Regions from separate parts of the Homo sapiens genome. Here all the other regions are linked to region 3. The links come from fine-mapping of genetic effects on gene expression. A gene starts in region 3. Each other region holds a variant in brackets. All regions are shown on one strand. Distances are from middle to middle.

The links. PIP is the estimated chance that this variant, and not a neighbour inherited with it, causes the effect.
Region 1: its variant is fine-mapped to the expression of DENND6B in whole blood (TOPMed, PIP above 0.99).
Region 2: its variant is fine-mapped to the expression of DENND6B in blood mononuclear cells (TOPMed, PIP above 0.99).
Region 4: its variant is fine-mapped to the expression of DENND6B in whole blood (TOPMed, PIP above 0.99).

The regions. Positions count from the first base shown.
Region 1 is chr22:50,284,446-50,289,587 of GRCh38, forward strand. PLXNB2 (plexin B2) reads right to left here. Exons shown (of 37, transcript NM_012401.4): 3 at 5,072-5,142; 4 at 4,515-4,697; 5 at 4,298-4,426; 6 at 3,492-3,592; 7 at 3,222-3,348; 8 at 2,666-2,819; 9 at 1,728-1,842; 10 at 1,545-1,653; 11 at 1,355-1,456; 12 at 128-220. Among named protein-coding and RNA genes, the nearest start is that of MAPK11, 17 kb to the left of the region's middle. The variant G/A (reference allele first, on the strand shown) is at 2,023.
Region 2 is chr22:50,297,670-50,302,811 of GRCh38, forward strand. The region is part of intron 1 of PLXNB2 (plexin B2); the gene reads right to left. Among named protein-coding and RNA genes, the nearest start is that of PLXNB2, 7.4 kb to the right of the region's middle. RefSeq lists enhancers at 2,771-3,327, 3,328-3,884 and a silencer at 4,022-4,071. The variant A/G (reference allele first, on the strand shown) is at 2,336.
Region 3 is chr22:50,324,614-50,329,755 of GRCh38, forward strand. It overlaps DENND6B (DENN domain containing 6B), which reads right to left and starts at 2,399. Exons shown (of 20, transcript NM_001001794.4): 1 at 2,199-2,399. The coding sequence starts at 2,375. RefSeq lists a silencer at 2,148-2,787.
Region 4 is chr22:50,368,267-50,373,408 of GRCh38, forward strand. PPP6R2 (protein phosphatase 6 regulatory subunit 2) reads left to right here. Exons shown (of 24, transcript NM_001242898.2): 2 at 3,754-3,884. It also overlaps the pseudogene RN7SL500P. Among named protein-coding and RNA genes, the nearest start is that of PPP6R2, 28 kb to the left of the region's middle. The variant G/A (reference allele first, on the strand shown) is at 2,301.

The DNA.
Region 1 (5,142 bases), 40 kb before region 3:
CCCCTGGCTGGGCTCTGGTCCCTGGGGTCTCCCTGCTGCCCCTCCCCTCACAGTCCTGAAGGTGACCCCCCACCCCACCCGGGGCCCTGGGGTCCAGCAGCCGAGCCGGCCTGCCCTGGAGCCGTACCTTTGGGGTCCGAAAGGCGAAGGTCCCAGATTCCTGCATGGTCACCGGCTCCATGAACTTGAGCAAGTCACTGCCCACGTGCAGGGAGGAACCCTGCAGACCATGCCGTCAGGACCCTGGACAGGCGGCTGTGGCACCCTGGCCCTCCTCCCAGAACCCCTGCAGCCCCTCCTCTGTGCCTACAGTGTGGGAGCCCTCTCCTCACCCCACACATGCCCGCCCCTCAGATTACCATGCCAGCTGACCCCTCGGCCACTCCTGAGCCCAAACACCTGTGTCTGCAGAAGCCTCTGAACGTCCTCTGTGGGTTTCCCACGGCCACCTCCACCACTCATCCACACCTGAGAACATCGCCCGGCCCACCTGACATCGTGGCCCCCACAGCTCCCTCCTCAGGAGGTGGCACTGGCCCCTCAATCTCCACACGCCTGCCTCCTCCACTGCCTCTCTTCAGGCCCATCCAAAGGCCCCCGAGTGCTGCCTCCTGGCCTCTGTCCCCGATAAATCCTGTGCCCTCTACCTCATGTGGGGGCCCCGAGTCGGGGGGCACGGGTGGAGCTCAGGCTTCCCACACACCCATCAGCACTGGCCGGCACCCCTCCCTCCGTACCTTAGCCTGCCTGTCACCAACCGGCACCCCCTCCCTCCGCACCTGAGCCTGCCTGTCACCGGCCGGCACCCCTCCCTCCGCACCTGAGCCTGCCTGTCACCAACCGGCACCCCCTCCCTCCGCACCTGAGCCTGCCTGTCACCGGCCGGCACCCCTCCCTCCGCACCTGAGCCTGCCTGTCACCGGCCGGCACCCCTCCCTCCGCACCTGAGCCTGCCTGTCACCGGCCGGCACCCCCTCCCTCCGCACCTGAGCCTGCCTGTCACCAACCGGCACCCCCTCCCTCCGTACCTGAGCCTGCCTGTCACCGGCCGGCACCCCTCCCTCCGCACCTGAGCCTGCCTGTCACCGGCCGGCACCCCTCCCTCCGCACCTGAGCCTGCCTGTCACAGCCGGCACCCCTCCCTCCGCACCTGAGCCTGCCTGTCACCGGCCGGCACCCCTCCCTCCGCACCTGAGCCTGCCTGTCACAGCCGGCACCCCTCCCTCCGCACCTGAGCCTGCCTGTCACCGGCCGGCACCCCTCCCTCCGTACCTGAGCCTGCCTGTCACCGGCCGGCACCCCTCCCTCCGCACCTGAGCCTGCCTGTCACCAGCCGGCACCCCTCCCTCCGCACCTTCACGGTGTCCAGGTTCTTGCCCTGGAAGTTCACATCTGTCTCGTGGTTCATGGGGATCACCAGGGGGCTGGGTCCCAGGAACTGGGGACAGCTGTCCTCCTGGGAGAGTAAGGCTGGTCAGGTGCTGCCTGGGCACAGCGGAGCAGCCATGCCCTGAACAGTCCCCTGAGGCCCCGAGGCCCCTCACCATGTGGGCACGGACGATGCCGTCCTCAGGGTTGGGCGAAGCCTCCCGGCACTCGTGGTAGCGCAGGTCCCACTGGCAGGTCCAGCGGTTGCTCACGCAGGAGATGCACCTGCATCCAGAGGGGATCGTGAGCAGGGCTGGGGTGGACGGGCAGGGTGGGGTCGATGGGCACAAGACACTCACGGCAGGTTCTCCTCCAGGCTCATGGCCTGGCGGCAGTCGTAGAAGGGGTACTGGTAGGACGTGAGGAAGATGTTGCCTCGTCTAAGGAGGAGCTGGATGGTCACGGCCACGTGGTCTGCAGACAGCAGAGGGGGAGGTGTCAAGGTGGCGGCCGCAGGGCCGAGGGCCAGGCTGGGCCTCCCCTGGGGCTGACTCCTGGGGCCAAGGTGGAGACCCCTGGTCTTCAGGGGGCCCTGCCAGGACGCCCCGCATTCATGTTGGGCGGGGCCTGCCACCTGCTATCAGATCTCGGGTG[G/A]GGCTGCCAGGACGCCCGTTCACGCTGGGCTGGACCTGCCACCTGCTATCAGATCTTGGTTCGGGTGTCGGGCGCAGCACCGGGCTTGCCTTTCTCCCCCGGGTCCAGGTTGCTTTCATACCCTCTGTTCCCGCAGGCACTGAGGGCAGCGGCTCCTTGGAGTCTGAGTGGGACCTGCCAGGTCCCTGCCCACGTCACTGCGTGGCCCCACTGCCCCCAAAACTCAGGGGACATGGGCGCGACGCCTGCCCTGGCCCACATGCGAGGCCCTGCAGCCTCTGGGAACGGCCCTGCTCTCTGAAGCTGGACATGGCAGGAAGGGGTGAGGGGCGTCTGCCGAGACGACGGGGCCTGGCGCCTGGCACCCACATGCCGCTCCGGACGTGATGAGGGAGCAGGCTGAAGACAAGTCACCTTTGCTACAGGCCTGGGGGGCGTGGCTGCGGACAGCCCAAGAAGCCAGAACCTCCCCAACAGGCACAGCAACCCCACCACAGGCTTCATTCAGGCTGGGCCCCCGGAGCAGCCGCGGAGTGTGCCTGTGCAGAGCCTGCACCCAGGGGCCAGCAGAGGCGAGAGCCCGTGTGCACAGGGCCCCGTGCGACCGAGAAGGGCCACCCGGGGGCTCGGGAAGGGGCCTCACCCTGGCCTGGCGGTGTGACGGGGATGCTGCTTGGGGAGTTGCAGATGACGGCCTCGCCCTCCACGCGGGCGGGGTGTGGCGGCGACTCCCCAAAAAGGCACAGCAACTCGTCCTCCTCGCTCAGGGCAGGGAGGGGGCTGACGGTCAGCTGCACCTGAGGGAGGGGCCGTGCCGCTCACACTGGGAACCCCGAGTCCTGTCAGCCCACCTGCCGGTGACCCGACCTCCCTGCGTGTGTGGGCGCACGTCCCAGTGGAGCCTCCAGAACCCGACTCCACGTCTTCCAATACAGGCCTCTCTGTGGTCACCCCAGCAACTCCTGGGACAGGGCCTGAGTCCACCCTGGATATGGACAAGCCCCACCCCTGCCCGCCCAGGTCATAGGGGTCCAGGGGACCAATGGAGGGCGGGCTCCATCCCTAAGGCTCGGTGCCCAGAGCCCAGGCGGGGGAGATGTGGAGCCCTCCCCTGCCTGTCCCAACAGCTCCCAGCATGGGGGAGCCCCCACCTGGCCCGGCCTGGGGCCCAGGACCCCCACCCCAGACCCACCACGCACCTCCCCCTGGGCCCGCCGGCTCATGTTCTGTGGCTGGGCGCTGGTGACGGCCACGCAGGACTTGCTTCGGCTCCACAGCCAGTGGCTGGCCTCCTCGGCCCGCGGACACTCGGCCTTCCGGGTGCATCTGCAGGCGCAGGGGGCGGCCTCAGCCCAGGGTGGAGTCTTGTTCTCCCGGGACAGGACAGTGCGATGTGCCCCCCGACCCAGGCCACGACCTTCCGGGATCCCAGAGGCAGGCCGTGTCCCCGAGCCACCCCAGGCACTCACCGTCCCTCGACGACGCACCAGCCGCAGTAGGGGTCCTGGGAGTCGCGGCACTGGGTGCAGGTCGGGTAGCTCAGGCACTCCTGCACCGGCAGCCGGAACACCTAGGGCAGCGGGGCCGTGAGTGGGACCACAGCAGAGGCCGCACGGGCCTTCCGCAGACCCCAGATGTCCCCAGACCGCCAGCTTGACCCAGCTCTGTCCCGGGGCCTCGGGAGCCTCAGACACCTCAGGCTTGATATTAAACAGTTCTGGCTCTGGGTGGCCATGCCTGGCCCAGGATCCCGATGGGAGCCCAGGGAAGCCTGGAGGTCTTGGCTATGGTGTCTCCCGGGGCAGCTCCTGTCCTCTACACTGGCTCCCTCCGAGGGGTGCTCCTAGGGCTGGCCTGAGGGTCTCTGGCACTAACCCCCCACAAGCTTGGGGCCCAGGCCCATGTTCTCCACTGACTGAGCTCACATGGGCTGTGCAGGGACCCCGTCTTCCCATCCACCCTCAGCAACACGCCTCAGACACCAACCCAGGTCCCTTCCATCAGGACAGGGCAGAGGCGGGGCCAGAGGGAGAGACATGGTTGAGACCACAAAGGACAAACAGAAGGAGCGGCAGAGACGGGGCAGTGCTAGAGAGACACAGGATGGAGGCACTGCCCGGGACCCACCCAGCCACCCCTCATCCAGACCAAGGAGAAGGGCCCAGCTCTGCAGCACCCCATCCTCCTCTGGCCCCCAGGCCTGTCCTAAGGGCCTGGGATGCAATGACCGGGCACACTTGGCCTAGAGTGCTCTCCGGGGCTGCGTCTGGCTCACCTTGTCCTGGGTCATGGCGTACAGGCTGCCCAGGTCTCCAGACAGTACCAGGTCGCGCTTGACTCTCTTGTTTATCTCCACAAGGATAGAGTCGTACTCTGAGGAGGTGCCATCTGGGGTGAGGTACACCTGTGTGCGCGAGGGCAGGCCGGTGAGGGTACGGGCCTTGTGCACAGACGGGCCCTCCAGAGCCTCCCCGCCCCAGCCTGGGCCAAACCTTGAGGATCCGGCCATCAGAGGTGCCCAGAAAAGCAACAGTGTGGTTGTTCTCGGCGGCGACCGTCACGGCCGTGAGGTTCAGGCCTCCACGCTGCAGCACGGCTGTGCCTCTGAGCCCGTCGCGGCTGCCCAGCGGGTAGGGCAGGTGCTCCGAGCCACATGGGAAGCTCTTGCTGGAGCCCTGCGGACCACAGCGTGTCAATGGCAGGCAGACCCCCTGTCCTGAAGGGCCCTCTCCACTCGCGCTCCAAGACTCGGGACAGGCCCTTCCCTTCCCTCCGGCACACGTCCTACACACGTCCCCGAGAACAGAACCCACATGGCAGGGAGCCCCACCGTGCTCACTGTTGTGTTCCCCAGTGCCCGACACAGGCCTGGGACTGGCGCCAGCGTGAATGGCATTGAGAGATGCGGCACCCACCCACGCAAGCGCCCAGGCTGGCGAGAGCCACGGCCACACTGCTCACGTGCACCCTCCCCAGCAGGCTGGGACACGCAAACCCACGAACGGACGCCTGCAGTCCGGGCCCTGCGAGAACACACTGAGGCCCATACCGGCGCGTGGCCGCCGCACTGGATATCGCCGTGGAAGGGCTTGTAGAAGATGTCACGGGCCTCCCGGGTGC
Region 2 (5,142 bases), 27 kb before region 3:
GTGGCTGTGGTCACACCTGACGCTGCTGCACCCAGGGACCTCGAGGCCTGAAGTCCAGAGCCAGACCAGTGAGTTCACACCCCAGCTCTGTCACGTTCTAGCTGGCTCATGTGGGCCATTCAGAAAGCTGCTCTGTGCCTCAGTTTCCCCATATGTAACCTGGGGGTCATTATGGCGCCCACCTCAGAGGGCTGCCTTGAGGTTGAGTGGGTGTGGAAATCTTTACAGCTGTGCCCACTCAGAGAACGCTGCCTCACGACATTCCCACGTCCATGTTCACTGTGCTCCCTGGAAAGCCCCTGCCCATCCTTTAGACCCCGAGACACCCTCCCTAACCCAGCCCCTGAGGGACTGGCCTTGCTCTGTGGTCTATGGTCTTCCCCGACAGGCCCCGGCTGCCCCGCCGCCCTGCCCCAACAAGTCCAAACACTGGATCTGGTCACTGGGCACCTGCCGGTCCAAACTCAGTGAGCCGGGAAGGGGTGGTGACATGCAGGGGCGCGAGCCCAGAAGACCTGTCCCCGCAGGTCACCCCCAGGCCAACAGAGCAGAAGGGTCTCCTCCCCCAACCAGAACTCCGATGTAGGCCAAGGGCAGCACAGGGATGCTGGGCCTCCCCTCTACAACCTAGACAGCCTGGGAGGCAGCAGGAGCTGCTTGCTGGCTGGGCACCTGTGGCCCTCTCCTGAGGTCCCTTTTGTTTTTTTTTTCTGACCAGCAGCCCCCAGGCCCCTTGCACGGGCTGAGTCTGGCCCCCGCCCCTCCCACTGGGTAAAGGTAAACAAGAGGCATGTAAGGGGGAAGGACAGAGCCCTACTCCAGATGAGGCCAAGAGTGGGGGCTGCCAGGCCCCCAAACTCCTGCCAGCCTTGGTTCTGAGACCGCCCCAAGTCTTGGCTGCACTGCGGGGTGGTTCCAGTGGGGACTAAAATTGGGAGTTCTCTGCCTTTCAGTATTTTCAAGCAAACAGACTGGGCCATTCTTTTCTTTTTTCTGAGACAGGTCTCACTCTGTCACCCAGGCTGGAGTGTAGGGGCATGATCTTGGCTCACTGCAACCCCTGCCTCCCAGGTTGAAGCAATTATCCTGCCTCAGCCTCTCCAGTAGCTGGGACTACAGGTGCACGCCACTATGCCCAGCTAATTTTCTGTATTTCAGTAGAGATGGGGCTTCACCGTGTTGCCCAGACCGGTTTCGAACTCCTGAGCTCAGGCAATCCACCCGCCTTGGCCTCCCAAAGTGCTGGAATTACAGGCGTGAGCCACCACACCCAGCCAGACTGACCATTCTTAATGCTAAAATCAAACCAGCACAAAGCAGTCAGGCCCAGTGGGAGGGCAGGCCCAGCTTGGGGGCTGCTCTTGGCCAGGCCAGGCTGTGGGCTCTGGCACGGGAACCAGAGAGGGCAGGGGCCAGAGGAGGTGCATGGGCAGCGGCCCGGCAGGGGCCAAGATGGGGATCCAGGCAGCAGCCGCCATGAAGAACGAGGAGAGCTCGGGCCTAGGCCTGGGAGGGCAGGAGGGGGTGGCATGAGCACCTAGGACATGGGCGGTGGAGAAGGCAGAGGTCCTAGGGCTGTGCGGCCCTCCAGGGCTCAAAGGATTGGGGTGGACACAGGCCCTGCGTGGGGTGGGGGGGGGGCCCGGTGCGGGGGCGGGGGAAGCAGCCTCGGACCAAGTGAGCGATAGGCTGCCCCAAGCACAGGCCAAGGCGCGTCTGAGAGTGGCTGTCCCGGAACGGGGCGACAGGCGTCACAGAAAAGCCACGGAGGCCCCGGAGGCCCCGCAGCCAGCAGCCAGGGGGCCGGGCCAAAGCTAGCGACACACGCAAATCTGCAATTATCCCAGAGCGCTAAACACATCAGAGGAAACAAAACAGACGCGCCGGCGAATCCCAGCCTCCGCTGTTTTCAAAACAAGCGCGAGGGGGGTGCCGCGGGGCGTGGGGCTGGGGGGTCGGCAAGGACCCCGGCCGCCCCTTCCCGCAGCGCCGCGCCCGTGGGTAGGCGCGGGGAGGGACTGGGTGGAGAGCGCGCGGGAGACCCGGCGAGGGCGAGACCGGCGGCCCCGCCACCCAGCCCCACCCACCGGTGACCCGGGTCAGAGTTCAGCCCGGGAGGCGGGGGGCGGTGTCTCCTGGGTGGGTCTGCGAGCCCGGTACCCGGCCAGAGCCAAAGGCGGGCACCCGGCCTGTGTGGAGCGCCCTGGACTATTCCTCGCAGGCCGACCCAGGTGGCACAGCCCCTCCCCCGGCGCCGGCACCGCCAGACTCCCCGGAGGGCGCAGAACGGTTGCCCGGGAGCCAGGGGCAAAGCGCGCCCGGGGCCAGGAAGCGC[A/G]GGGACTAGGCCCGCGCCTCCTCGGCGCCGCCCACTGCCCCCCGCGAGCCCAAGCTCCACGGCCACCGCCCGCGCCCTCCCGGGGACTCCGGCGCCCCGTCCGCCCCTCGGCCTCGCGCACCTGGAGGGAGCACGTGGCCGCCTCTGGGACAAACCTCACCAGGCCGGGGGCCCAGGACGCGCGGGCGGGTGGGAGTCTGACCCGAGTAACAATGACGGCGGCGGCGACAGTCACACGAGCGCAGGAGACGTCGTCCCCGCGGGGCGCTCACCTGGCGTCGGGCACATCGGATCGCACAGCCGGCCATTACCTAAGTCCTCCGAGCCGTGGAAGGGGCGCGGGGAGCAGCTCCGCCCCGCCGATGGTGGCTCCGCCCGTGCCCCCGGTCGGTCTCAGGGCTCGGCCCCTCCCGGCCCAGCTGCCAATCATGCACGACCCTGCCCGGAGCAGCCTCCCGCAGGACTCCGGACCCAGGGTCAAGGCCAGACTCACCCGAGGCAAAGGCCGAACGCTCCCGGCACAACCCGACCTAGGAGCTGGGGCGGGGCGGGGCGGGGCGGGGCTCCAGGGACAGACTGATGTGGAGGCCTGAGCCTCGCTTCAGCGTCTACAGCGGTCCCCGCTGGACTCTCGGCTGAGGACCCCTCCCAGGTGGAGGCCGTCGCACCCCTTCCCCGCCAGCCTGGTTTCAGGGTGGGGTTCCTACTTAGGGCCAGCCTCCCCTGCAGTCTGGGCTCTGGGTCCCAGCAGGAAAAGTCACCCTGGCTGGTGGCAGTGATGGGGTCACCAGCCCAGGATCCTGGGGGTGCCCCATGAAGCCCCAGCTCCTCCTGTCACTTGCTCCAGCCGAGTTAGTCACAGCCCCCACTGGTCCACACCTCCTGACACACCCAGGCCACCTGGTACCCAGGGCCTCTGTATCTAGCCCTGGCCCTCAGGCACCCCCTGAGCTCACCTGGCCATGCCCAAGGGGCCTGCCCCAGCCCCCTCTCCGCCTCTGCACCAAGTGCAGCCCCTGTATATGGTGCGTCCCTAGACTGGGGCCCCAGGCTGCCCTCCCATCCTACACACAGTTGTGAGGCCCTCCTCAGCCTCCTCTCTGGCCACGGCCCACTGGCGCATCTGGAGGATGGTCCTCCCCAGCCCTCAGACAGAAGGTGGGATCCAGTTGGCTACGGCGCCCTGTCCCCACACGCACCAGGCCTGCAGAACCACCTCTCTCCTCAACCACCCCTTTCGGGGTCCCAGACCCCATCCTGTCCAACCTGGGCACAGCTGCAGCCCCCTCTTGCTACACCGTGGTCCTTCGGGTCAGAAAGCTGGGCAGCGCAATGAACCTACCGATGTCTCCGTGCTTCCTGAGGACCTCCTGTGGGAGGGGTGGGCACCGCCAGGCGCTCGGGGCACACGAGGCCGATGGCTACAGCAGGAACCACCAACTCATCAGGACAGGACATGCGGTCAGACAGCAGGCGGCCACGGAGGGACTCTCGTGGGATTCTGGGGCTCAGTCACTTGGAGTCTCTCCTGAAAGGAGGCCTCCCGGCCCGCCGGTGCCCAGCCCCACCTGCAGGCTCTCCTCTGAGTGGCCCCCACGCATCTCCCCCTTTCCAGCTCAACCCCGCAGCAGCCGGCTGCTCAGAGACCAGGTCCTGCCTGGATGCAGCTGGCTCAAGACCAGCCCCCGCCCACAGCCCCCTTCTCACCCCCGGGGTGGGCGTTGGGGGGTGGACGGGTGAGGCCCCAGCCAGTGAGCAGTAAGCAAGGCCTGTAATCTCCCCGTCAGCCTGTCAGCGCCTCAGCGGTCACCCCAGCCCCGCCTCGCCCATCACCGCTGAACCCCACAATTAGCTTGGGGCACCGCGCCAAGCCTGTGTGCCAGACACCACTTGCACACATGACCACACATGTGCAGACACACATGGCTGGGTGCTGCCGGAAAAGCCCTGCCAACAGGGTCTCACCCCAACACCCAGAACTCGTCCCCAGTACAAAGAGCCTGGGAGAGAAGCCTCAGGCCGGGGCACTTGGGCTAAGAGGGGCAGTGGGGCTCTCAGAACCCAGCGCTGCCTGGAGCCCCGAGGGAGGGGCCATGTGTGGCATGGGGAAGTGGGGTGGGGGCAGGGCCGTCTCAGCAGGGGAGAGGGGCTGCGTCTGCCCAGGATGAGCTGGGGGCTGGTGAGGCACAGGGTGTTGGGCAGGACCTGGGTCCAGGCCAAGGGTGAGGCAGCCCAGGGTGTGGGCTGGGCCCCACAGGGGCAAACACTCAGGGCTTTGGGAGGCCAGAGGGACAGGGATTTCCCAGTGAGGAAATGCCCATCTCAGAGTGGGGGCAGGACAGTGAGTGGGAGGTGATGCCCGTGGCTGGAGCTGTGTGGGGAGGTGGGTGCCCCTGGAGGCCAGGTCCAGCCCCTTGCTCCACGCGGAGGCTTGCTCTGCTCATGGTGGAGCTGAGGACTTCAAACCCCACAGGGCCTGGTCGAGAGCCACTGGGCCCCAGGTCTAGATGTGGAACTGGGGGACCCTCCAGCGAGCTTTGCTGGGCCTGGGCGGCCTGCCTGGGGCGCCCCACCTTCACGCCCTCCTCCCTAACATCCTTTTCTCCTGAAGTCCCTCAGGGTGGTCACCAGATCAGGCTCGGTGCCAACATAGGAGTGGGGAGGCCAAGCCCCTCAGCTCCCCTGGCCAATCTCTGAGGCTGAGAGGGAGTGGGGGGGGCCATGCTGGAGCACCTCCCTCCCACCACCTGCCCCTTGCCCCTGTCAACTGCTGGCTCCACTTAAAATAGCTTCTCCCCCTCGCTGGT
Region 3 (5,142 bases):
GGGTTTCTCTGTGTTGGTCAGGCTGGTCTCAAACTCCTGAACTCAGGTGATCTGTCCGCCTCGGCCTCCCAAAGTGCTAGGATTACAGGCGTGAGCCACCATGCCCAGCCTTCAAAGTGATTTACTGAATGAGTAACTGAATCACCAGCTCCTTGCCTTTTGCTTATGTTGGCATTTTGGGAGAGGGGTTACCTGAAACAGGACCCCCTCCCCTGTCTCTTCTCAGCATCCAAGACTTATTTACCTAAGCCCATTCCTTCCTCTGAGCTGCATGCATCCCAACTAGAGTCTTCCTTCCATATCGCAGAACCAAGCACAGTCCTGGGGCTTTGCAGTGCTTAGCTGGGCTGAGCTGTGACTGAGTTGCACAGTGGGTGCTCCCTAAGTCTGTAAGTGACTAAAACGACCTCGATCTTCCCTGTGACTTCCAGGTGAGGGAGGAAAGGCAAGAGTCATGTGCTCAGGCCCCGGTGGATCCACTGCCAGGTTTCTGCACAGACTCAGTGATCTGCAGGTGCCCAGATCATTGCTATGGAGGGTTTCGCTCATGGACCTGGGTCCCCAACACTCTGCCAGCTGACCATGCCCCTAGTCCGAGCTGAGCATCCCCAGCAAAAGCTCAGGAGTCCAAGCACACACAGCCTTCAACAGCTCAGAAATAACTTTCCGAATGGGTTTTAGAAAATAACACGAGAATGTCTTAAGGAACAGAGGAACCTCCTTTTTTTTTTTTTTTTTTTTTGAGATGGAGTCTCACTTTGTCGCCCAAGCTGGAGCGCAATGGTGCAATCTCTGCTCACTGCAACCTCCCCCTCCCGGGTTCAAGCCATTCTCCTCCTCAGTCTCCCGAGTAGCTAGGACTACAGGAGTGTGCCACCTCGCCCGGCTAATTTCTGTATTTTTAGTGGAGATGTGGTTTCACCATGTTGGCCAGGATGGTCTCAAACTGCTGACCTTGTGATCTGCCTGCCTCGGCCTCTCAAAGTGCTGGGATTACAGGCATGAGTCACCGCGTCCGGCCAGGAACCTCTTAACTTCTTTTGTGATTTTGTGGGGAACAATCTGGGCAACAGTATTGAACTAAGAAAGGTTTTCAACCCTGGGCAGGTCACCACACTTCTTGGTACTCAGCCCCCACCCAGTGATGCTGTTTGAGGCTGTGCACCTGCTGGGGACCGTGTGTGGTGGGAGGGGCTCCAGAGAGTGCTAGAGTTAATGCTTTTCTGTTTAGAAGACTATATGCTTCTCATGGCCTCTTGGAGTTCAGCAGGGCCTTAGAAAGCATCTCCCAACCACAGAGACGCGCTGCCTGGCTTTCCTGATGATGATGATTTGGCCTGATCTTGGACACCTGCGGTAATAGAGAGCTCACTACCCCTCACGAGGTTCCTTGCGCCAGCGCGGGGAAGCCTCCCTCCATCTGCAGGTGGGCCTCCCCTGTGCTGGTCAGCTCCCTGGTGTGTGTTACACAGGACACAGAGAAGATCATCCTGCGGGGCCTCCCTGGAGGAAAGGAGGCTGCCTGTGTGGGTAGGTGAGTGGAGGCCTGCAGGCAGCAGAAAGACCACATCGAAAGCCCATGGGCACAGCCGATGAACAGACCCCCACGAGCAAGAACACCACAAGACGCAGGTGGAGGGACGGGGCCCATGGGGTCTGGATCTGATGCTAGGTGAACAAGGAGGCGCTGCAGGGTTTTAAGCAGGAGAGCCACAAAGGTTGAACTCTGGGGTGCAGCTGGGGTGGGGATGACATCAGTGATGGCAGCAAAGGAACGGATCCGAGACCTTTGTTGCAGAAGGAGCCGTCAGCCTCGCCTATGCCCAGAGATGGGATGCGGAGCGGAGGGTAAGCCCGGGACTCTGGCGGGAGCCACTGAGGGGATGAAGGTGTCACTGCTCCGGTGGGGAATGGAGGGGGGAGATGTGAGACATTTACTGGGAAAAATCGAAAGAGTACCACTTAGGTTATGCAAAATGCTCCATCCCAATGTGAAGACAAGATCCGACTCCGAGCAGCTCGCCTTCCCTCCTCGGCCTGGGGAGCGCTTCTGGAGCCCGGAGAAGAGGCCCCTCCAGGAGGCGGCGGCCGAAGGCCAGGGAGAGTGCGGGGCGGCCGAGGGCCCCAAGCGAGGCGGGACTGGCCCCGAGAGGCGCAGCCCTGCCCACCCGCCCGCGCCCGCGCTCGCGCCCGCTCACCTCCAGCGCCTGGCCCAGCTCCAGGTCGAAGGTGACCACGCACACACACTCCAGCCAGGCGGAGAAGCGCGCCCAGGGCGCCGCCGGGGTCCGCGCCGCGCGACCTGAAGACGTGGGTCCAGCCGCGCCCAGGCAGCCGCGAGCCCGGCGAGGCCCTGTGCCCAACAGCGCGTCCATGGCGGCGGCCGCGGGTTGCCGGGGAAACGCGGGCGGGGGCGGCGCGCGTCCGGGCCGCTCCTCAGAACAGTCGAGCGGCCGCCGCGGCCCAGTGCGGCTCCCGCGCGGCCGCGCGCCCCCTAGCGCCCGAGAAGCGCCAGCGGCCGGGCGCCGCCCAGGGCACCAGCGAGCCGGACGCGCGCGGGCCAGAGCGGCCGGAGCCCACTGGGGGACTTCCGGGGAAGCGGCCGAACTGGGGCCTTCCAGGGTCCACGCCGTCTGAGGCCCGAGAGAGTCGGTTCGGCCCCGGTGTTCGCGGATCCCGGCTCGCGGGAGCCTCGGGGCCAGGCCAGGGAGGCAGAGCAAGCTGCAGCCAGCCGGCGCCGGGCTCGTCGGGCTTCGCAGGTCCGGCCAGCCTACCTCGCCCCACCGCGCAGGGGCCAGCGGCGTCGCGGGCGTTTTCGTGGCGGAATGGCGTCCTCACTGAGCGCCCAGCCACCACCGCGGACTCGCGCTCGCTTCCTCTGGGGCCCGCGCGGCCTGGGGTCGTGTCTGACCGCGGGTGTCCACGCAACACCTCTGCAGTTTCACTTTCCGGGGGAATCGCGGGGACCTGGAGCGAACTCTTCCCTCCCTCGCGAGGGCCCCGGGCCCCGCTGTGGTCCACAGAGCACCTTGAGGCCCGGCGTGGAAGGGCGAGTTTGGGGCTGTCGGTAACTTAATGAGGCACGCCTTTGAGTCGTGGGCCTCATGACGTTTCCGTGGAAGGCGGGCCGCATATACTGTGGTGGTCCCTTCAGATTACCACGTGTTGGCCAGACGCGGTGGCTCACGCCTGTAATCTCACCGCTTTGGGAGGCCGAGGTGGGGTGGCGGATCACGAATCCAGGAAATCGAGACCAACCTGGTGAAACCCTGTCTCTACTGAAAATACAAAAATTAGCCGGGCGTGGTGGCTGGCGAGCGCCGTAACCCCAGCTATTGGGGAGGCTGAGGCAGGAGAATCGTTTGAACCCCGGAGGCGAAGCTTGCAGTGAGCTGAGATGTCGCCATTGCACTCCAGCCTGGGCGACAGAGTGAGACTCCATCTCAAAAATAAAAAAATAAAAGATTACCACGTGTTGTTCGGATCATCTGGCCTAGGTGTGGGGTAGGCTGTCCCATCTAGGTTTGTCACATAACAAAATCGCCTAATGACACATTTCTCAGGACATAGCTTCACCGTTGAGTAGCACATGGCCGTATTGTTTTTTGTTTGTTTGTTTCTGTTGTTTTTTTTGAGACAGAATGTTGCTCTTGTTGCCCAGGCAGGAGTGCAATGGCATGGTCTTGGCTCACTGCAACCTCTGCCTACTGGGTTCGAGCGATTCTCCTGCCTCAGCCTCCCGAGTAGCTGGAATTACAGGCGTGCACCACCACGCCAGGCTAATTTCTGTATTTTTGGTAGAAACGGTTTCACCATTTTGGCCAGGCTGGTCTCGAACTCCTGAGCTCAGGTGATCTGCCCGCCTCGGCCTCCCAAAGTGTTGAGATTACAGGCGTGAGCCACTATGCCAGGCCCGACTGTATAGCTTTTATTTTTATTTTTAGAGGAAAGGTCTCACTCTCTCCCAGGATGGAGTGCAGTGGCCCATTGCAGCTCACTGCAGCCTCGATCTCCTGGCTCAAGCTATCCTGCCACTCAGTCTCCTAGGTAGCTGAGGCTACAGGCACACGCCGCCATACCCCATTATTTTTTTATTTTTATTTTTTGTTCGTTTTTGTGGAGATGGGGTCTCGTGCTGCCTGGGCTCATTTTCATTTCTCTTGGGCGTGCATAGAAACCAAATTGCTGAGGCATAACCTGGGTATATGTTTAGCTTTCCCCAAAGCAGCCATACATTTAAAAACATTCCTACCAGGCCAGGCGAGGTGGCTCATGCCTGTAATCCCAGCACTTTGGGAGGCTGAGGCTAGTGGATCACCTGAGGTCAGGAGTTTGAGACCAACCTGGCCGACATGGTGAAAACCTGTCTCTACTAAAAAATACAAAAATTAGCCAGGCATGGTGGCGGTCACCTGTGATCCTAGCTACTCAGGAGGCTAAGGCATGAGATCGCTTGAACCTGGGAGGTGGAGGTTGCAGTGAGCCGAGATCAAGCCACTGCACTCCAGCCTGTGTGACAGAGCGAGACTTTGTCTCAAAAAAAGATAAAAAAAGAAAATGGAAACATTCCTACCAACAGTTTATGTTTCCTTTGCTCCACATCCTTCCCAACATTTGGTGTTGCCAAGCGTCTTCATTGTAGCCAGCCAATGAGTGGGTAGTGGTATCTTGTGATTTTTAAAATTTTGTTTATTTTATAGAGAAGAGATCTCATCCTATCACCCAGGCTGAAGTTCAGTGATGTCATCATAGCTCACTGCAGCCTGGAACTCCTGGGCTCAAGGGATCCTCCTTCATTGGCCTCCCAAGTAGCTGTAACTACAGGCATGTGCCACCGTGCCTGGGTATTCTTGTGGTTTTGATTTGCATTTCCCTGATTACTAATGGTCTTGAGCATTTTTTTCCCCTGTGGTTATTGCATGCCATCATTGTAAGATGTACTCTGATTTTGAGGTAGGAGGCAGAACTTTATTCCAGACCAGATTAAAGACTGGCTGAAGGCCGGGCGCGGTGGCTCACGCCTGTAATCCTAACACTTTGGGAGGCCGAAAAGGCGAGCAGATCAGCAGATCGAGACCATCCTGGCTAACACGGTGAAACCTCATCTCTACTAAAAGTACAGAAAATTAGCCGGGTGTGGTG
Region 4 (5,142 bases), 44 kb after region 3:
AGAGTCTTCTGTCGCTCGCCCAGGAAAGGGAGACAGACTCCCTTTCCCAGTCTGCTAAGTAACGGGTGCCTTCTCAGGCACTGGCGCTACCACTAGACCAAGGAGTCCTTTAGTGGCCCTGTCTGGGCGTGACAGAAGGCTCACACTCTTGTCTTCTGGTCACTTCTCACCATGTCCCTTCAGCTCCTATCTCTGTATGGCCTGGTTTTTCCTAGGTTATAATTGTAGAACAAAGATTATTATAATATTGGAATAAAGAGTAATGCTACAAACTAATGATTAATAATATTCACATATATCTATAATCTATTTCTAGTATAACTATTCTTACTTTATATATTTTATTTATTATACTGGAACAGCTCGTGCCCTCAGTCTCTTGCCTTGGCACCTGGGTAGCTTGCCGCCCACAATACAAGGTCTCACTTTGTCACCCAGGCTGGAGTGCAGTGGTGTGATCATAGCTCACCACAACCATGCACACTTAGGCCGAAGGGATCCTCCCACTTCAATCCTGAGTAGCTGGGACTGCAGGCGTGCACCACCACACCTGGCTAATGCTGGTGCTGTTTAGGGACACACACATTCTTCCTCCAGCTCACACTGAGTAGAATTTGTTAAGAAGATGCATGCTACAAAATCATTGACTCAAGATTAGAATAAACAGGCCCAAGATCAAAAACATTTCTTGGCCGGGTGCAGTGGCTCACGCCTGTAATCCCAGCACTTTGGGAGGCCGAGGTGGGCGGATCAGCTGAGGTTGGGAGTTCACGACCAGCCTGACCAACATGGAGAAACCCTGTCTCTACTAAAAATACAAAATTAGCTGGGTGTGGTGGTGCGTGCCTGCAATCCCAGCTACTTGGGAGGCTGAGGCAGGAGAATCGCTTGAACCTAGGAGGCGGAGGTTGTGGTGAGCCGAGATCACGCCATTGCACTCCAGCCTGGGCAACAAGAGTGAAATTCCATCTAAAAAAAAAAAAAGAAAACACATTTCTTTATTTTGAAAACTGTATAAAGTTTTAGAAAAGTGGGCTGAAAGCCTATTTTGAGTTATTTAGCTTAATTTTAATCATGAAGTGTTAGGTATAAAAAGTATTACCTGTTTTAGAAGGTGGTAACACTGACTTATCCCTGGGCTACTGGCACCACTTTGAGTATCTTTTTTGTTTGATTTTTATTTTTTATTTTTTTAGAGATGGGGTCTCACTCTGTTACCCAAGCTGCAGTACAGTAGTGTGATTGTGGCTCACTGCAGCCTTTTATTTTATTTTATTTTTTGAGACAGAGTCTCACTCTGTTGCCCAGGCTGGAGTGGCTCACTGCAACCTCTGCCTCCAGGGTTCAAGCAATTCTCTTGCCTCAGCCTCCTGAGTATCTGGGATTAGAGGCGTACGCCCGGCTAATTTTTTGTGTTTTTAGTAGAGGCAGGGTTTCACCATGTTGGCCAGGCTGGTCTTGAACTCCTGACCTCAAGTGATCACCCACCTCGGCCTCCCAAAGTGCTGGGATTACAGGTGTGAGCCACCGCGCCTGACCTTTCACTGCAGCCTCGAACTCCTGTGCTCAAGCAGTCCTCCCACTCAGCCTCCCAAGTATCTGGGACCACAGGTGTGTGCCACCACACCCAGCTAAGTAATTTTTTTTTTTTTTTTTTTTTTAAGTAGAGGCAAGGTCTCGCTGTGTTGCTCAGGCTGGTCTTAAACTCCAGCACTTAAGTGATCCTCCTGCCTTGGCTTCCCAAAGTGCTGGGATTACAGATGTGAGCCACCACATCCCACCTTTTTGATTTGTATATAAAATGTAAAAATATGCAAAAGTAGAGAAAACATAATTAACATCTATGTACCCATCACCTAACTTCGACAGTGATCGACACTTTTTTTTTATTTTGAAAGATCTGATTTTATTTTCTGAATCAAAAGTAAGTGTATTCATGTTAAATTTAGAATGTTTTAGCTTTCCATTGATCTTTCAAGATGCTTTCCAAATACTAACAGTGCACAGAACTATGTGCCACGTCTTGTTTGTTTGTTTTTGAGATGGAGTCTTGCACTGTCACCAGGGCTGGAGTGCAATGGCGCGATCTCGGCTCACTGCAACCTCTGCCTCCCAGGTTCAAGCAATTCTCCTGCCTCAGCCTCCCGAGGAGATGGGATTACAGGCGCCTGCCACCACGCCCAGCTAATTTTTTGTGTTTTTAGTAGAGATGGGGTTTCACTATGTTGGCCAGACTGGTCTCGAATGCCTGACCTCGTGATCCACCCGCCTTGGCCTCCCAAAGTGCTGGGATTACAGGC[G/A]TGAGCCACCACGCCTGGCCACGCTATGTTTTAAAGAAAAAAGTTTAAAAGTAGGACCTATTTCTTTTTTTCTTTTCATTTTTTTGAGACGGAGTCTCACTCTGTTGCCCAGGCTGGAGTGCAGTGGCGTGATCTCGGCTCACTGCAACCTCTGCCTCCCGGGTTCAAGTGATTCTCCTGCCTCAGCCTCCCGAGTAGCTGGGATTACAGGCGCCTGCCATTGTGCCTCGCTAGTTTTTGTATTTTTAGTAGAGACGGGGTTTCACCATGTTGGCCAGGCTAATCTTGAACTCCTGACCTCATGATCCACCCGCCTCGGCCTCCCAAAGTGTTGGGATTATAGGCGTGAGCCACTGCCCCCAGCCACAAATGTAGGACCTATTTCTAAGAAACCCTTTGTAGAGGTCAGGGTATTGGGAATCCTAATTTAAAAATATTTTTAATCATTATTGGAAATTTAAGTGACAGTGGGTTCAAGAGCTAAACGTCAGACCTTTTTTAAAACAAATTTTATTTTCTGAAGGACTTCATACCTGACAACGCCAATTAAACATAATACTCCACCCATCCTACAAATTATTAAATACATTATTTCACCTGGGACTAGGATAATTATAAAATGGAATTTTAAAGTTGTAATATAGCCAGGCACAGTGGTTTGTGCTTGTAATTCCTGCTACTCAGCAGGCTGTGGCAGGAGGATCACTTGAGGGCTGTAATGTGCTGTGTGAACTGGGTGTCTGCACTAAGTTCGGCATCAGTATGGTGACCTCCCAGAAAAGGAAGACTGCCAGGTTGCCTAAGGAGGTGTGAACCAGCTGAGGTTGGAAATGGAGCACATCAGAAACTCCCATGCTGGTTAGTAGTGGGACTGGAGCTGTGAATAGCTACTGCTCTCCACCCTGGGCAGCATAGTGAGACCCCATCTCTTTAAAAAAGAAAAAAAAAAGAAAACTATCTTAAAATATCATTTTAACTGTCATGTTTGCTAGTTGAATTATGAAATCAAAGACAAATTTTATATTTAAGGGACAGATAATAAATGCTGTTCCATTGCTTTATTTTTAAAATTTTGTAATTGCTTTTTTTTGAGATGGGGTCAGTCTCTGGTCACCCAGGCTGGAGTGCAGTGGCATGATCTCAGCTCACTGCAACCTCTGCCTCCCAGGCTCCAGTGATCCCGCCTCAGCCTCCCGAGTAGCTGGGACTACAGGCATGCGCCACCACACCCGGCTAATTTTTGTATTTTTTGGTAGAAATGAGGTTTTTCCATGTCACCCAAGCTAGTCTTAAACTCTTGGACTCAAGTGATCTGCCGCCTTGGCCTCCCATTCTGTGGGGATTAAAGGTGTGAGCCACCGCACCCTGCCTCCTTTTCCTGTTGTCTGCCATTTTGATAAGTTAACTTTACCGAGGAAGAACTTAAAGCAAGATTTTTCCTCTTATTTTTCAGGTAAAGAGATTATAAATCTTCCACTGAATGAAAAAAATTTTCTTAAAGCTGCATATACTCCAAGAAAAAAACCACAAATGTTTTTCTGTTTTGCCTGAATACATGATTTAAACAAGAGATTTCCACAGAAGGTAAGATAAGTTTCTTTTTCAATTTGATTCTGTTTTATTGTGTAATTTATGTAAAAGTTCTGTACAGGTGGAAGTTCAAAGATGGGTCACAGCGAAAAACGTAGTTTAGAAGATATGCTGGCTGGGCACTGTGGCTCACACCTGTAATCTCAGCACTTTGGGAGGCCGAGGTGGGTGGATCATGAGATCAGGAGTTCGAGACCAGCCTGACCAACATGATGAAACCCGTCTCTACTGAAAATACAAAAATTAGCTGGGCATAGTGGTGTGTACCTGTAATCCCAGCTACTCAGGAGGCTGAGGCAGGAGAATCGCTTGAATCCAGGAGATGGAGGTTGCAGTGAGCCGAGATCGTGTCACTGTACTCCAGTCTGGGCGACAGAGCAAGACTCTGTTTCAAAACAAAACAAAACAAAACAAAAAAACAGATGTGCTCATGGTCTGTTGTCTTTTGGTGGTTTTTGATCCTCCTGTGTCTGGTTTTGAGATGCTCTGCATGTTTTTGAGCAAGTTGCTTGGTCTTTCCAAGCCCAAGTTTAATTCTTCTTTTTTTTTTGAGACGGAGTCTTGCTCTGTTGCCCAGGCTGGAGTGCAGTGGTGTGATCTCGGCTCACTGCAACCTCCACCTCCCGGGATCAAGCGATTCTTCTTCCTCAGCCTCCCAAGTAGCTGGGACTACAGGCACGCACCACCACACCTGGCTAATTTTTGTATTTGTAGTAGAGACGGGGTTTCACCATATTGACCAGGGTGGTCTCGAACTCCTGACCTTGTGATCCGCCCGCCTCGGCCTCCCAAAGTGCTGGGATAGCAGGCGTGAGCCACCGCGCCCTGTCCAAAGTTTAATTCTGACAAAACAGGAACAGTTTTGCACATATTTAATGAGGTATATGTTCCGTCTCACTTGCAGGGAACATGTGAGATACAGCATATACACTGTCACAGTTGCCATTCAAACCACACAGTTACGCAGAAAATGAAAAGGGGAGGGAAGGACCTCTGCTTCCAGCAATATAAGATACTCTTACGAGGCTCTTCCATTGCAGTTCAGTGAGATGCTGGATAAATTAGAATAAATATAATTTCTTTCTTTTTTTTTTTTTTTTTTTGAGACAGAGTCTTGCTCAGTCGCCCAGGCTGGAGTGCAGTGGCGCGATCTCGGCTCACTGCAAGCTCCACCTCCTGGGTTCATGCCATTCTCCTGCCTCAGCCTCCCGAGTAGCTGGGACTACAGGCACCCGCCAGCACGCCCGGCTAA